Regions from separate parts of the Homo sapiens genome. Here region 1 is linked to region 2. Evidence: fine-mapped expression QTL. Tissue or cell type: whole blood. Region 2 holds a variant in brackets; the other region holds the start of a gene. All regions are shown on one strand. Distances are between the middles of the regions.

What was found. PIP is the estimated chance that this variant, and not a neighbour inherited with it, causes the effect.
Region 1: it holds the start of NSMF, and the variant in region 2 is fine-mapped to the expression of NSMF in whole blood (TOPMed, PIP above 0.99).

Annotation. Positions count from the first base shown.
Region 1 is chr9:137,456,209-137,464,208 of GRCh38, forward strand. It overlaps NSMF (NMDA receptor synaptonuclear signaling and neuronal migration factor), which reads right to left and starts at 3,126. Exons shown (of 16, transcript NM_001130969.3): 1 at 2,824-3,126; 2 at 2,280-2,341; 3 at 1,199-1,693; 4 at 203-278. The coding sequence starts at 2,894. PNPLA7 (patatin like domain 7, lysophospholipase) reads right to left here. Exons shown (of 35, transcript NM_001098537.3): 28 at 7,918-7,987; 29 at 7,207-7,323; 30 at 6,477-6,625; 31 at 5,971-6,123; 32 at 5,723-5,833; 33 at 5,328-5,412; 34 at 4,426-4,529; 35 at 3,744-4,268. The coding sequence ends at 4,185. RefSeq lists enhancers at 1,310-2,007, 4,831-5,764, 5,765-6,697 and silencers at 2,647-2,916, 3,007-3,356.
Region 2 is chr9:137,401,931-137,409,930 of GRCh38, forward strand. The region is part of intron 1 of EXD3 (exonuclease 3'-5' domain containing 3); the gene reads right to left. Among named protein-coding and RNA genes, the nearest start is that of EXD3, 17 kb to the right of the region's middle. RefSeq lists silencers at 4,889-4,968, 5,009-5,368. The variant C/T (reference allele first, on the strand shown) is at 3,905.

The DNA.
Region 1 (8,000 bases), 54 kb after region 2:
GGGGGGGGGGCTGGGCACCAGCCATGGGAGGGGAAGAGCAGTCAGCCCTGGCCTCCCTGGCAGGCCTGGCACAGCATAGGCACGTGGGTCTGTTCAGAAGCAGCCCCCCTGGTAGGCCCAGAGACTGGGAAAAAGTGCTGTTTCCTGAGCAGCAGAAAGAGACCACCCAACCCTGACCCCAAGTCGTGGGCACAAGACTCACGCTTGCATAGTTGTGGTTGCTGTCTGGAAGCTGAAAAGATTTTCCTTGGGGAACCAGGTACGAATAGGGATGTCGTCTAAGAGAGACAAAAAGGAGCGGTGGCTGGGTGAAGTAGGGGTTCCTGAAGCCTCTCCCTCCCTGTTGGGAAGCAGATGCTTCTGGGTCCAGGGGTCAGCAGAAGCTGGCAGCCAGGGCGGGTGGGGGGAGGGTGGCATCCCCACACGGGCACAGAGGGCAGTGCTCGAATGTCTGCTGCTCACTCACCAAGACCACGCTCTTGGTAACTTGACGCTTTGATTTTTTTGGCTTAACTTTCCCTTTGGCCACCCAAAGTTTGAGAAACATTCCTTTGAAAGCACAGTCTGTCTCCAGGAGGCCCAGGAAAACAATGCGTCTGTTTCCCTTGGGCAGAAGAGGCTCTGAGGCCTTCTCTGCAGCCCCCATGCTCTAGCTGGAGGCCCTCACCGAGGCTAGAGACCACCTTGCTGAGGGCTGTCCCCTTCCGAGGGCCCCCACAGCCTTTCCCTGATGCCCAAGTGTGGGGACAGTGGAGTGACTTTCTGCCTGGTGGACAAGCTACCACACAACTCAACAACCCTGGGGAAAGATGCCCACTGCCTGGCTGGGCCCCAACAGCTCCCCAGGACTCTCGGAGGGCAGCCCAGTCTCCTGATTAAGCGGTGCTTCCTCCCTACATATCCCTTAAGATCCTCCCAGGCCCCCTCCTCCAGGAAGCACTCCTTGATTGACCTGGTGCTAGCAGGGCGAAAGCGGACTGTGAGGCCTGGCAGATTTTGCTGAGGAGCTGAGGGAGCTCACAGCTCATAGGGTGTGGAGGCCGCAGCAGAAGCCTGCCGGTTTTAATCTTGAGTCCGCTGGCATGCTGTGACCTGAGCACCTGTTCTCTGTTCCAAGCCTCACAGTGGCTGCTGCTGTCAGACCCTGGCAGCGGCATGCACCCCCAAACCTGTCTATGCCCTGACACAAACCCCTCACCAGACACACGGTCAACGCTGTACATCCTCTCCAGCTTCTTGCGGCGACCGGAGGTCTCAGGCAGAGGTGGCTGGTCCAGCCCAAAGGCCCGAGGGGTGGGGCCAGGAGCCAGCTGGGCACATCCGGGGCACTCCTTGGAGCCCTGGCGGCTGCCCGCCCAGCTCTGGCAGGGCCTGCTGACGTCCTCCCGGCTGCCACCAGGGCTGGCGCGCAGGGGCTGGCTGTGATGGTGAGGGTGCCGCTGCCGCCGCCCCTTCACCACCGCCAGCTCAATGGCCTCCGCCTCAGGGCTGGGCAGCAGGGCAGGCTCCCCAGAGATGGTGTACACTCGAGGCTGAGGGCCCTCGCCTGCGGGCTTCCTAATGCTGGGCTCCTCTGAGAGGCTGCCCTCGTAGCAGCCGTTGGAGACGAGGGACAGGCGGCGCTTGTTCTGGGGGGCCGGCTGCATCTCGGGGGACCCGTCGTGGCCAGAGTAGGCATCAGCCAGCAGGTGATCTAGGAGAGACACTGAGTGAGCCTGCCTGCCGCGTGTGGGCCCCCCGCTGCCGGTTTCATAGCAGGCCGAAGGCAGAGAACACCCAGTGGGCACCTGGCCTCTGTGGGGGACTAGGGCTGCCCAAACCCTAGTCACTGGCGTGTTTCTGAGCCCCTCACTCCTATCTGGGCCTGAAGCTCTAGCATGTGCGTGGGGGCTGGGTGACGCTGTGCTACCTGTGTGCGGTCCTGCCGGGTAGGAACACGCAGGCCATCCCCCAGCCTGCGATCGCACCGTTTGCCTGGTGCCAACTTCCCCCTCCCCCCACCAGCTGGCCCCCAGAGGCAGTGGTGCCAGCCCTGGGGGAGCCAGGAGGCCTGTTGCCATGCCAACGGCCCAGGCGGGGTGGGTGCCATGGTGACGAGCGGCTGGGAACTGCTCCTGGGGCTCGGGCAGGGAGGGCAGGGGATGTAAGGAAGCCAGGCCGGCAGGGCGCCGGGCCCACGCGCAACCAATGCCCCTCACGCTCCACCCCCGGAGGCAGGGATCAGCATCCCTTGGGCTGGGGGGTCTGGGCGGCCCTGGCACGGCCTCGCGTGCCCCTACCTGCGCCGTTGCGGTTCTCAGGGTGACTCTGGGACAGGTACTCTCCAAACGCTCGGGCTGCTCTGAGGGTGGACAGAGGGCACGGTCAGAGGCCACGGCACGACCCTCCCAAACACCGGGCCGCGCAAGAGCCGGGGGTCCGGTCCCCAGCCAGGCCCTCGGCGTCTGGAAGGAGGGTCGGGGTCGTCCCCCTCCGGGAGCCCACACACCCTTGGTCCTGGTGCGCCCTGGCCAGGCCTGCAGGCCCGGCCCCTGCCCGTCGGACCGTGGAGAGGGGTCGCGAGGCCGGTCGGCTGCTGTTCCCCGGGGGAACCGAGGCCACTCCCGACCTGGGGGGTGCGCTCGCCCACCACGCGCTCGCGAGGGGAGGGGAGGGAAGAGCAGGGCAGGGGACCAGGAAGAGGGAGGCGCGGGGCGCGGGGAGGGCGCCTCAGTGGCAGAGGCCGGGGCCCGGGAGCCCGGGGAGCACCGCGGGGCAGGGGCGGACTCGGGCGGGGTCGGAGGTCCAGGGCGGGGTGCGGGAAGGCGGCCCCGCCGCACTCACCGCACTTTGGCCGCCACCGAGGACATGGCCTCGCTCCTCAGCGCCCTCCTCCTGGAGGCGGCGGCGCCCATGGTCGAGGCGGCGGCGCATCCCCCGGGCCTCAGAGCGCGCCCCGCGCCCGCCGCCTCCGCCGGGGTAGCCGCGCCGCACCGGGGGTCGCGCTCGGGCTCGGGCTCGGGGTCTCGCTCGGGCTCCGGCTCGGGCTTGGGCTCGGGGTCGGGCTCGGGGTCGGGCCCGGTCCCCGCATGGCCGCACCCGGCGCTCCGCGCGTGCCGCCGCTCCCGGGAGAGCGCTGCCCGAACCGAGGGCCGGCCCCGCCCATCGTGACGTCAGGGCCCGGGCGGGCCCAGAGGGGCGGTCGGCCCCACCTACCGTGACGTCAGGGCCCCGGAGAGCTCGGAGAGGACATGTGGCCCCGCCCACCGTGACGTCCGGGCCCGGGTTGAGTTGGGGGCGGGGCCGGGCGGCCTGGCTCCGCGCCCTCTCGTCCAGGCCTCCAGAGCGGGGAAACTGAGGCCAGCGGCCCCCTGGTCGCAAAGTCCTGGGCCCTCGGCCCTCACGATCTGCTGCTCAGACCTGCAGGATCACAGGGAGGCCGGTTCTCCCTCCCCTTACACAAAAGGGCTCCCTGTGCAGTTTGGGAACTGGAAACCGAAGGGGAAGCCAGTTTAGGGGGCACCCAGTTTGCACGAGGCCAGAGAGAGACAGAGGGGCCCGTCCTGGTCCTGGGGGGCCACAGCTCTATGCAGACTCTGGACGCCCTACCTGCCTGGCCTGCATTTGCCGCCCTAGGGCTCTCAGGCCCCAGCAGTGGGGTCCTTTGAGGAGGACTGGGGACTGCCCAGCCTCAGGGACCACCCGCATCAGGGAGAACCAGTAGTGTTTCTTTGCCACAGGGACCTCGGCCCGGGAGACACGTCCAACAGTGAGATCCACCTTTATTGAAACATCACACGGCAGCATCAGGGCTCCCACACCTCACAGGGCAGCAGGCAGTTCACAGGACAGCAGGCAGTTCACAGGGCTTTGGGGGCCTCACAGGGCAGCAGGTGGTTCACAGGGCTTCGGGGGGCCTCACAGGGCTTCGGGGGGCCTCACAGGGCTGCAGGGGGTTCACAGAGCTTCAGGGGCCTCACAGAGCTTCAGGGGCCTCACAGGACTGCAGGGGGGCTCACAGGGCCCTGTATGCAGGGCTGCTGGTACAAAGAAGAGGCCCAGAGAACCCTAACACAGCCTGGGGCCCCGGGGAAGTCAGGGCTTCCAGCAGGGCAGGTACAGAGGCCCCTAGGACTTGGCAGGAGCCTCAGCCTTGGGGACAGTCCCACGGAAGACGCTGCATCCGGGCTCTTTAGCAGAGGCCTCTACCCGTCCTGGTCAGAGGAGCCCTCAGACAGTTTTGGGAAAGCCAGACTGGGGTGTCGATGCCGCAGTGAGGACTCGTCCTCCTGCAAGCAGACCGCATGTTCCAGGTGAGGACCAGGCAGGGCAGGGGCTCTGCAGCGCTGGTAACCCGGTGGGACCACAGGGAGGGAGTGGCCGGCACAGGGCCAGGCACCAAGGCTCAGCTGTGGGCACCAGGTGGGACCATGCCCAGCTCCTCACCAAGTCTGAGCCCTGCTGGGCTGAGGTGCTCTGGAAGTCTGCGTATGCATCCCTGGGGACGTCCAGCAGCTCCTCCTCGTACTCCGTCTGGTAGTCAGATTCGTCTGGCACCGAGGGTAGGGCTGCGTCAGTCCCCTCCCAAGGAAGGGACCGTACCCAGCATAGCCACACTCAGAGGCAGAACCGGCCACAGATGCCCACCCCCGCCTCCAAGGTGGCCCGGGGCCCTACACGCAGCCACCTGGTCCCAGGGCAGCCCTGCACACCACCCCTGGTTCTGTCTGGCTCCAGCTTTGCCCCAGCACATCACTTCGTGGGTCTTCCACAAGGACAAGGAGCGGGCAGACACTCCTCCCCTTGTCAGCCAAGCACCCTGAGGGCTCCAGCACCCCAGACCTGGCAACTGTGGATAGGGGCTGCCTTGCCCAGGGCCCTCTCGGCCTGCGGCAGCCATGAAGACGTCTCCCAGGAGAATGTCCAGTTCTGCTGTGAGGAGGCCACTGGCTGAAGGCCCAAGCGCAGGGCCCTGGATGGAGCATGGAGGGTAGTGGACCCGCCCTTCTTGTCCTGCGGCCCCTCCAACAAGCAGCCTTCATTCCCATTTCCCACTGGGTGGGGTGGGAGGCAAAACGTGGTTCTACTTCAGGCCTGAGGTGTGGCTGGGAGTTGAGGTGAATGAAGGGCAGGGGCTGGGTGACCCGGGGTGGTCACAGTCCCACTGCTGTGGGAACACGTGGTGCCCGGGACGGAGGAGTGCCACCAAGCACCCCAGCTGCTGGAGCCTGGGCGTGGACGTGGGCGGGAGGGGAGGCCGTGGGCCTCTGGGGTGGGGGGGTTCAAGCCCAACACAGCATCAGGAGGTCACGCACGTCTCCACGGCTTCGTCTTGCGCCTCCACTCACCATCCACCATGGCGGGCTTGGCGGGCTCAATGCGAGACACAATTTCGGCAAGGTCCGTGAAGGAGGCGTTGGGACAGGTGAGGACCTAGGGGTGGGGTGAGGACAGCACGTTGCCTGTGGACACCCGCCTGCCAGTCCCCAGCCTGCTTCCTGTGGGGAGGCCCCACCCACCCTGCGCCCTCTCTGCAGCCTCCGCCTGCCCCCCAAGTAAGGGCAGGGACCGGGGAGATGCGCAGTCCTGAGCAATCCTTGTCCTGGCCCTGGAGTCTTTGGCCAGGGGGGCAGGGCCTGTGGCCTGAGGAGCTGGGCGTGGCCTGATGAACTGGGCGTGGGCGTGGCCCGAAGAACTGGGCGCGGTCCGGGGAGCTGGGCGTGGTCCGGACGCCCGTACTCACCGCACTCGCGGGCTTCTTGCTCGGCCCCTGCTGGTCGCGGAGCATCTTCTCCAGCACGCCGCTGCGGCCCCAGATGTCAAACACCGTGCGCCCGTGCTGGTAGCCCACTTCCTGTGCACACCCCCAGGGCCCCGTCAGGAGGTGTGGGGAGCCCCCCACTTCCTGTGTTCTCAAAAGGGGGAAGCGAGGAGGGGCAGCCACCAGAGTGCCTCCGCCCGCCTCCGCCGCCGCGGGTGGCCGGCACTCACGCAGATCTCGTTGAACTTGCCGAAGTCCAGGGTGCTGTAGCTGTCGATGGGGGGGCGCAGGTACTCGCAGTAGTCACTGCTCTTCACCACCTCCAGCTGCCGCACGCAACACACGTAGGCCAGGCGCGTCTGAATCTCTGCCATGTTCAACACCTGCTGCCGTCACAGCCGCCTGAGTCTCCTGCCCCGGCCCCTACCCCGTCCCAGCCTGGCCCGTGGCGCAGGACAGGTTCTGGGGACCCATCCTCTGGGGTAGGTAGGTTCTGGGGGGAGAGGGTAGCAGCACCCGGCCGGGGGTCCTCCCTGCGGGCTGCCACAGCCTTCAGGCCCGTCCGGCCTCGTGCCTTCCTTCGCCCGAGTTGGGCTCAGGCAGGGGTGGTGAGGGGTGGCCCCAGACCTGCTGGCCTCAGAGCCCAGGAGCGACCCCCACTCCCCTGCCGCAGGACAGGTGTGGAGCTGCAGGGAGGAGCAGCAGGGACAGCCCAGCCTGCCCGGTAGCACCCCACCTTGACTTTCGTGGCCAAGGGGTTCCAGCGTTTCCACAGCAGCCACCACCCAGACAGCGCATCCCCATAGTTGGTGAGGTCCGTCTCATCTCGGCTGCCCACGTCAATGGCGATCACCACTTTTGCCCCCATGGACCGGGCCACATCCGCTAGGGAGAAGCCAGCCCTGGTTACCCCCTGGACAGGCATGCAGAGCCAGGGGACGGGGGCAGAGCCTGCCTCTCCGAGCCCTGACGTGGGGGTTGTGGGGTCTCCTCTCCGCCATTACACCTTCTAGAGGCAGAAGACCCACATGCCCAGCTCGATGGGCAGCTGTGGGCACACGGCTGTGTCCTGGGCCTTTCTGACCGTATATCCCACAGGTGACAGGAGTGGCCTGGCCTGGCCCCCAGCAAGCTCGACACCTGCAGGCTGTTAGTTTCTGACTGTGGGCACAGATGGGGCTTAATTGCTCCCAGTTCCTCGACTTGGCCTTTGTTCTGCATGCTGCTGAGCTGACAAACAGGGCCATATGCTGGAGCACATGCTGCCGGTGCCTGCGTGTGCATGTACACGCGTGTGCATGTTCTCGGAGCTCTGATGCCAGCCTGACATTTTCCCTTGGCATACTCTAAGGAAAACGTGTTCCAGCCCAGGCTTCTTGGAGCGGAGGCAGCTGTGGCAGGGGCCGTGGGGCGGCGTGACCCAGGAGCCTGTGCTCCTGCCGGGCGTGGTCCCCCCACCGCAGTACCTGGGAGGTTGTTGATGTAGCCCCCGTCCATCAGCAGGTGTCCGTCCTTCGGGTCACAGAGAGGGGGCATGTAACCGGACAGGGACATGCTGGCACGCACGTACCACCACAGGGAGCCTGGGGAGGGGGCCCGGAGCTGCTGGTTACCCGGAGGAGGCTCCTCCTGGGTCCAGGGTTCAGGGCCTTGCCACTGCAGTCCTGGAGCTGGTAGGTCCCAACTCTCTGAGGCCGCCTCCACAGAGGGAAGCTCATGGCCCAAGGGCTGAACAAAATTGAGTTCTTTCTCTGGGGTCGCACTGCATTACATGTGCCCAGGACTTCGAACTGCTGTGACCCCCTCACCCCAGGACTGAGGGAGCCCCTCACCCCATGACCGAGTGAACCCCTCATCCCCCTGAACCAGGTGAGCCCCTCACCCCAGGACTCAGGGAGCCCCTCACTTTGTCCTCTCACATGGTATCCATCAGTCTAGCCCAACATTGCTGATTCTGTGAGGGTCTCCTCCAGCCTTCTGAGGTCTCTGGCCCAGGCCACGCCCCCTCCTGTCTGTGCCCCTAGTAGGGGCATCCTGTGTCCTCCATGGACAAAGCTGCCCATACGTCTGCATCCTTCAGGAGACCCCGCGGCCTTCCCAACCCCTGGGGCTGCTGAGCTCTCCCCCTGCCCACACCTCGCACCCAAGCGGCCGCCCTGCGCAGCAGGAGTGCTCACCGTCGGTGTGGACCCGCATGGCCGAGGCTGTGATGTCGGTGGTGATGGCGAAATAAGGAATCCACAGGTCCTGCGGGCGGACG
Region 2 (8,000 bases):
CCTGAAAAAATTGGTTTTTCTTTTCTACTGCGTCAGGTTGCACATTTTCTGAATTTTTATGCTGTTTCCCTTTTTAAACATAATTCTTTTTTAGTTTTGTTTTTGAGATGGAGTCTTGCTCCGTCACCAGACTGGAGTGCAGTGGTGTGATCTCGGCTCACTGCAACCTCTGCCTTTCTGGTTCAAGTGATTCTCTTGCCTCAGCCTCCTGAGTAGCTGGGATTACAGGTGCGTGCCACCACGCCCGGCTAATTTTTGTATTTTTAGTAGAGATGTGGTTTCACCATATTGGTCAGGCCGGTCTTGAACTCCTGACCTCGTGATCCGCCCGTCTCAGCCTCCCAAAGTGTGGGGATTACAGGTGTGAGCCATTGTGCCTGGTCCCAGAATGCTTTTAACAGCATCCAAGTCAGCTTTTGAATGCTTTGCTGCTTAGAGATTTCTTCCACCAGATACCCTAAATCATCTCTCTCTCAAGGTCAAAGTTCCATAAATCTCTAGGACAGGCACAAAATGCTGCCAGTCTCTTTGCTAAAAGATAACAAGAGTCACCTTTGCTTCAGTTCTCAACAAGTTCCCCATCTCCATTTGAGACCATCTCAGCCTGGACATTATTGTTCATAACACTATCAGCATTTTTGTCAAAGCTATTCAACAAGTCTCTAGGAGGTTCCAAACCTTCCCACATCTTCTTGTCTTCTGAGCCCTCCAAACTGTTCCAACCTCTGCCTGTTACCCAGTTCCAAGTCGCTTCCACATTTTTGGGTATCTTTTCAGCAATACCCCACTCCACTGGTACCAATTTACTGCGTTAGCCCGTTTTCACGCTGCTGATAAACACATACCTGAGACTCAGAACAAAAACAAGTTTAATTGGACTCACATTTCCACATGGCTGGGGAGGCCTCAGAATCACGGTGGAAGGCGAAAGGCACTTCTTACATGGTGGCAGCAAGAGAAAATGAGGAACCAAAAGTGGAAACCCTGATAAAGCCATCAGATCTCGTGAGTCATATTCACTACCATGAGAACAGCATGGGAAAGACCGGCCCCAGGATTCAATTACTGCCCCCTGGGTCCCTCCCACAACAGGTGGGAATTCTGGGAGATACAATTCAAGTTGAGATGTGGGTGAGGACACAGCCAAAGCATATCACCCGCCACGGGAGACCCTGTGGCTCGGCTTGGCTCATTTCCTGCAGGATCCCCGGCGCTGACCCCTCTCCCCTCCATGGCAGTGTGGGGACTGCTATGCATATCTGAAAGTGAGGCACTAGTCATCTGCTTGGAAATGGGTTGGGGGCACCCCAGGAGTGGGGCCCCACTGTGAGTGACCTGAGGGGCCCCAGAAGATGCAGACCCGAACGCGTCTCCTCCCGGCTGGTCTGTCCAGGAAAAAGCCCTCCCAGCCGCACCTGCCAGCCACTGAGTTTGGGGGCACAGGCAGGGAGCTGCAGACCCCGTTCCTCTGTAGCCCTCCCCACCCCCAGCCCAGCAGCAGCAGCAGCCAGCACACCCTGGCCCAGGGTCTCCGAGGGTCGGGGGCCGCAGGGTCTGGCAGCACCCCATGAAGGCCGCCCCAGGTCCGTTTCAGCCCTCCAGACGCCCGTACCCAGGAAACCTGGGCCTCCATTCCCGAGCCCCCCAGTTTTCGCCTCTCTCCTTCTCTTTGCCCCTAAGGGGTTTTGCCTTTTTAATTCTTTTGCTGTCACCTTAATTGGCCTTGGGGGAGATGGACCAGCAGGCCCGAGATCCAGGGTCTTAGGGCTCCTCCCAGCAGGGCAGACCCAGCCACGCAGAGCCCACCGCCAGCTTCCAAGGGCTCCAGAAAGTGGTCGCTGCCCTTCTCAGAAGGCCCTCTCCACCATGCCCAGAACCGTGGATGCCCCAGCCTGGGCTCTTCACCAGGAAATGAAGGGGAAGACAGACCTGTGGGATAGGGATGGGTCCCGAGGCGGGGCAGTCACACCCCCACGCCATCTCTGCATAGACCCCGAAGGATGTGGAGTGTCCTCCAGGGCCGTACAAAGCACCACACACAGGGCGCGAGTGACAGGGACGTGTGTCCTCACTGTCCCGAGGCTGCAGCTCTGAGACTGGGTGGGGAGGGTGGGCCCCACTCCCTGGGTCTCCTCCCTGGGTCCTCACGGGTCCCCCCATGTGCGTCTGTGTCCTGATCTCCCCTTCTTGTGGTGACACCAGTCCTACTGGATTAGGGCCCACCCCAACGACCTCATTTTACCTCTGCCAAGACCCCATCTCCAAATACAGTGACATGGCGCCTAGGGCTTCAACATGGGAATTTGGGGGGAAACAACTCAGCCCACAGCAGATCGCGGGTCCTTCCCCAACAGAGGCAGAGGCTCCCCACGCCAGCTCTTGGGGAAGGGTCAGGGAGCCCACAAGGCCTCTGCACACTATTCCCTCCGCCTTCATGAAAGAGGCGTGCCCATCTCCCAGATGAGAAAACTGAGCTCAGCCAGGATCAAAGCAGGTCTCGTCCCAGTCTCCTCACTCTACCACTCTCCACTTTTATTTGCTTTTTATTGCCTCAGCTGCCTATAAAGGCAATTATGCATGTAATACAATATTTGGAAAACTACATTTGCAAATTCTGAAAAATCATGCAAAAAAAATCACTAAAAGCCGGCCAGGCGCGGTGGCTCATGCCTATAATCCCAGCACTTTGGGAGGCCAAGGCCGGAGGATCACCTGAGGTCGGGAGTTCGAGACCAGCCTGACCAACATGGAGAAACCCCATTTCTACTAAAAATATAAAATTAGCTGGGCGTGGTGGCACATGCCTCTAATCTCAGCTACTTGGGAGGCTGAGGCAGGAGAAATGCTTGAACCCGGGAGGCAGAGGTTGCAGTGAGCCAAGGTCGCACCATTGCACTCCAGCCTGGGCAACAAGAGTGAAGCTCTGTCTTAAAAAAAAAAAAATCACTAAAAGCCACAGTCCCCTCCTGGCCACGCCTGTCTCCTCCTTGCTCCCAGTGCCACCTCATCTGCCTCAGCCCCTACCTATCCCCTCAGAGCTGTTGCCACAGCCCTCCCAGGTGCTCGAGGGGACACAGTGCTATCCCCCAGGCGAGCCGGGTGCTGGGAGGGGACACGTGCTGTCTCACAGGTGAGCCAGGGGCTGGGAGGGGACACAGTGCTTTCCCACAGGTGAGCCAGTGGCCATTCCCAAATTCCCAGGGCCTCTGCCAGCGGGTGTCCAAAGACCCTACTTGGGAGCCCCGCACATCCGCACATCCCACCCTTGGACCTCCTAACTGCGCTGGGGTCCGGCACAGTGGGCTCTGACCCACAGAGGGCTGGGCCAGCACCCCCGGGGGAAGGCGGTGGGCACCCAGGGCCAGAGCAGGGGCCAGAGCCCCAACCCCCGCTGCTTCCCCAACTGCTCCCTGGGGACCCCTGGACCACAGGACCAACGGGGGCAGGGTGGGCCCCCCACACAGGTCCTGGACTCATTCGTGCTGGTGTCCGTGGCCCAAGGATTTGCAGAGCCGCGGACGGAGCCCAGGGCGGCCGTCGCAGGCCACTCACCCGTCCCCAGCCACTCACCCGTCCCCAGCATCCACAGTTTCTCAGGCTCTCAACAATAAACTTTACGTCTCATGGTTCAAGAAATGCCAGGCTCTGGGCTGAGAGGCAGAAGGCTCAGGCACAGCTCCCACTCTGTAAGGCAGCAGAAGCCACCATTTCTCTCTATTGTTGGTTTCCTCCCTGGATCTTCTGCTGAAAGCACATTTGATTTTCTTACATCACATTGAAGTAGATCAAGTTCCTGATAAATGTTAGAGTTAGCCTGACTCAGCATGAGCCTGGCTTCTCCTGCCGGCCGGCACAGGGGTGGGTACCATGCACATGGTCTCCCCGCCCTGCCTACCATCTGCTG[C/T]CCTGGAACCCTTGGTGGGACCCGCTGCCCACAGACACCTTGCCCGTGCCCCAATGCCAGGCAGAGGCCTCTGTGCTCTGAAGAGTGAATAAAACGTGAAACTGGCTGGGCACGGTGGCTCACGCCTGTAATCCCAGCCTTGTGGGAGGCCGAGGCGGGAGGATCACTTGAGCTCAGGAGTTTGAGACCAGCCTGGGCAACATAGTGAGACCCCATCCTATGAAAAAAAAAATCAGCTGGGCGTGGTAACATGCACCTGTAGTCCCAGCTACTCAGGAGGCTGAGGTGGGAGGACCGCTTGAGCCCAGGAGGTCAAGGCTGCGGTGACCCAAGATTGGGCCACTGCATTCTAGCCTGGGTGACAGAGCAAGACCCTGTTTCCAAAAAAGAAAAAGAAAAGAAAGAAAAGAAAAGAAAAGGAAAGGAAAAGAAAGAAAATAAAAGGCAAGGAAAAAGGAAAAAAAAAAGAAAAAGAAAAGAAAAAGAAAAAGAAAAGAAAGAAAAATGAGGCCCCTGCACAGAACCAGGGTGGCTGGCAGCAAGTTATCTGGAGCTGAGAGCTGGGGGCTGAGTGCAGCCAGGGCGGGGTGAGCCTCGTGACACCCCCATCGCACAGGGAGGCCCTGACAGGAGGCCGCTCCACCTCTGTTTGTCTTGTCCCAAACGGCAGAGGCGACGGCTGCTCTTGGCCAACACTCCTGCCCCTGGCGTGCCCCGTGGCCGTCTGGAGGGTGGACTTGGCTTCCTGCACCAACGCACCCCTCGACCCCCAGACGGCAGCGGCATTAGTGGCGCTGATGGTGTCTGATGAGCAAATGAATAAAGGCAGCAGGTCCCCCACCACCACCTCCATTCCCACGGGCACTCCCAGCGGCTTCTGGAAACTTCCCTGGGCTCTCAGTACTCCCCCGGCCACAGCCTCAGTGGGCGGTAGACCCTCTCCCCAGCCCTCCTCTGGGGTGTCTGTGTCCCGACCCCCACCCCAGGCCGCTCCTCAGCCCCCACCCCTCCCTTCCAGGAGTGCAGCCCGTCCCCCCTCAGCAGGCTGGGGACGGCCTTGCGCGCTGCGGGGACCCGACGGGGCAGCCCCAGCCAGGCCGTCAGGCTCCGAGAGAGGTGCGGAGCCAACACTGCCTCCCAGCGTCCCAGGGTCCTGTGACCGGGAAGGCCCCGCATCTGCTGCACCCGGAGTGGTGGAGGCCAGAACGCTCGCCAGCAAACCCGCCCGTTCACAGAGGCACCGGAGCGGGCGGGCGGGGGCGGCCTGCGGAGCAGCCAGTCCCGGGCACCCCACGCCGACCGCCGCGCGTCCGGGCCGGTCTCTGGGCCCCTCTGCTGGTGGAACCCGGCAGCGCCTCCTCCGTCTCAGCCGCGTCGGTCCCAGGCGCCTCCCCTACCCGCACGCCCAGGCTGGGTCTCCGTTTCCCACCAGGCCAGCGCTGCAGGCAGAGCCCAGCCCGGCGGCCGCGGCGAACACGGGGCGGCCCCTCCACCTCTGTCCGCCTGCCCTAAATACCGCAGAGGTGACTGCTCCCCCGCGAAGCCCACCCACCTGAGGTCCTGGCCCCCAAGGGGCCATCTGCCCCCGGCTCACCGCAGGCCCTTTCCTGGGGGCCTCTGTGCCGTGCAAAGGGCAGGTCTGGCCGCTCTCGGGCTCTGCCCTGCCAGCCCCACAACCCAGAACCCAGCGTCCCCGCCCCCATCTCCCGGGATCCCTTGGCTAAGGGAGGGTGACTGGTGGCCCGCAGGCCCTTCAGAGGGTCCCTGACAGGGAAGGATGGAGACGCAGCTCCAGACCCCAGAGTGCGGCCCCCCAGACACACCCACGGCCGTCCACCATCCAAGCATAAACCCCAACGCAGCGGCTCCTGGCCTGGTTCTGAAGACGGCCCAGCTGGAGTGGGAGAAGTGCCCAGTGCTTCCGTCACTGGAGCCCACGGGTCCACAGGCATTCGAGGTCTTGGATGCGCCGGCTGGACCCAAGGACACACGCGGGAGGCGGGAGGCGGGAGGGGCACAGCAAAGGGTCTGGGGGGAGGCCGGAGGGGGCTTTCCCCTTGGGCACCATGGACACCCCAGGCCCCGCAGCACACAAATGCGGAGCCTCAAGCCTCCAGGGGTTTTCCAGCCTCACGCCTCCGGGGGTCTCCCCAGCCTCATGCCTCTGGGGATCTCCCACCCTCATGCCTCCTGTGGTCTCCCAGCCTCAGGCCTCCAAGGGTCTCCCTGGCCCAACCTCCTTGCTGTGTCTCCAGAAAGCTCTGAAGCCCAGCCCCTCCTCCTCACGTTCGACTGCGCTGCGTGGGTGTTTTACTAAAACCCAACAGTGACTCTTCCTCTGGGCGCCTGGATGTGTCTCCTCCAACATTTGGCCGGCCCTGCACGTGCCCCAAAGCTCCCAAGGGGCTTTTAAGAGGGCTTTGGGGTGGGGGGGCCGGGCATGGTCGCTCACGCCTGTAATCCCAGCACTTTGGGAAGCTGAGGCGGGAGGATCACGAGGTCAGGAGATCGAGACCATCCTGGTTAACACGGTGAAACCCCGTCTCTACTAAAAATATAAAAATTTGCCGGGCGTGGTGGCGGGCGCCTGTAGTCCCAGCTACTCCGGAGGCTGAGGCAGGTGAATGGCGTGAACCCGGGAGGTGGAGCTTGCAGTGAGCCGAGATCGCACCACTACACTCCAGCCTGGGCGATAGAGTGAGACTCTGCCTCAAAAAAAAAAAAAAAAAAAGAGGGCTCTGGGGGAGACAGCAGCCCCTACGGCCCCCACACCTCCCCCCAGCTGCTCAGCAAGGCCCTCCAGGGACGTCCAGCACAGCTGAACCGGCCCCTCAGACCAATGGTAACCCCAAATCTGAGACTGGGGGCCTTTTATCTGCGTCCCTTGAGTGGGCTGTGAGTTCCAAGATCCTCTTTAAAAAAGGTGGAGCCTCGAGCCAATCGGAATGGACAGACCCACCCTGTACAGGGAAGCCAGGCCAGCGGGCGCACAGGCCCAGGACCCGGGCGCAGCTTGTCTCTCACCATCAGGCTGGGTCAGCCCCTCTCCACAAGTCTGCAGGGCTGTTTTTATCCCTGAGCTCAGGATGAACTTGTACAAGGCCCCGATGGCACTCACTTTGCTGATCAGCCTGGGAAGGGGGCAGTCGGCCTGTCCCTTCTGTGGGAGGGCGGCTGCTATAATTTAAAGTGTGTCCCTCTGAAACACGCTGGAATTCCATCACCATGCTGCGGCGTTTCAAGGTGGGGCCTTGGGACGTGCCCGGGGGGTGAGGATCCTGCCCCACTGGAGGGATTAATCCATTCATGGATTCCTGGGTTATCACGGGAGTGGAACTGGTGGCTTTATAAGAGGAGGAGGAGAGGCCTGAGGCCTGAGCCCGCATGCTGGGCCCTCACCATGGCTGCCCCGAGCCGCCTCAGGACCCTTCGGAGTCCCACCAGCATGAATACCTCCTCATTCAGAATCCCGCCAGCATGAACGCCTCCTCGGATGCTCCCCTCACCCTTAGACTTAGCCTCCAGAGCTGTAAGAAATAAATTCCTTTTCTTTATAAATTACCCAGTTTTAGATATTGTGTTTTAAGTTAACAGAAAACTGGCCCGGCGTGGTGGCTCACACCTTTGATCCCACCACTTTGGGAGGCCAAAGCAGGCGGATTGCTTGAGTCCAGGAGTTTGAGACCAGCCTGGGTAACATAGCGAGACTCTGTTTCTATGAAAAAAACAGGTATCTATCCAGGCATGGTGGCATGCGGCGTGTAGGGAGGGAGCTGTGTCTACAAAGCCCTGGACCTAAAAATGGCCAAGTGGAGACATGGGCTGATGTGACTGAGAATGGAAACGGCTGGCAAGGATTCAGTTCACATTCCCTCGCTGCACACTCTCTGTAACTGGCCTCATTTTAGGATGAAAAAGCCTGTCTGGATCTCTCAGCATCTTTCTCGGAACGTGGTGCCAGGTCCCAAGCCCACACCAGGACAAGCGGGGCTCCCCAGCTCCCTGATGGGGCGACACCACTCACCAGTTTTGCAGCTTCCACTTAAAATTAACAACTGCTGGCTGGGCGCGGTGGCTCACGCCCGTAATCCCAGCA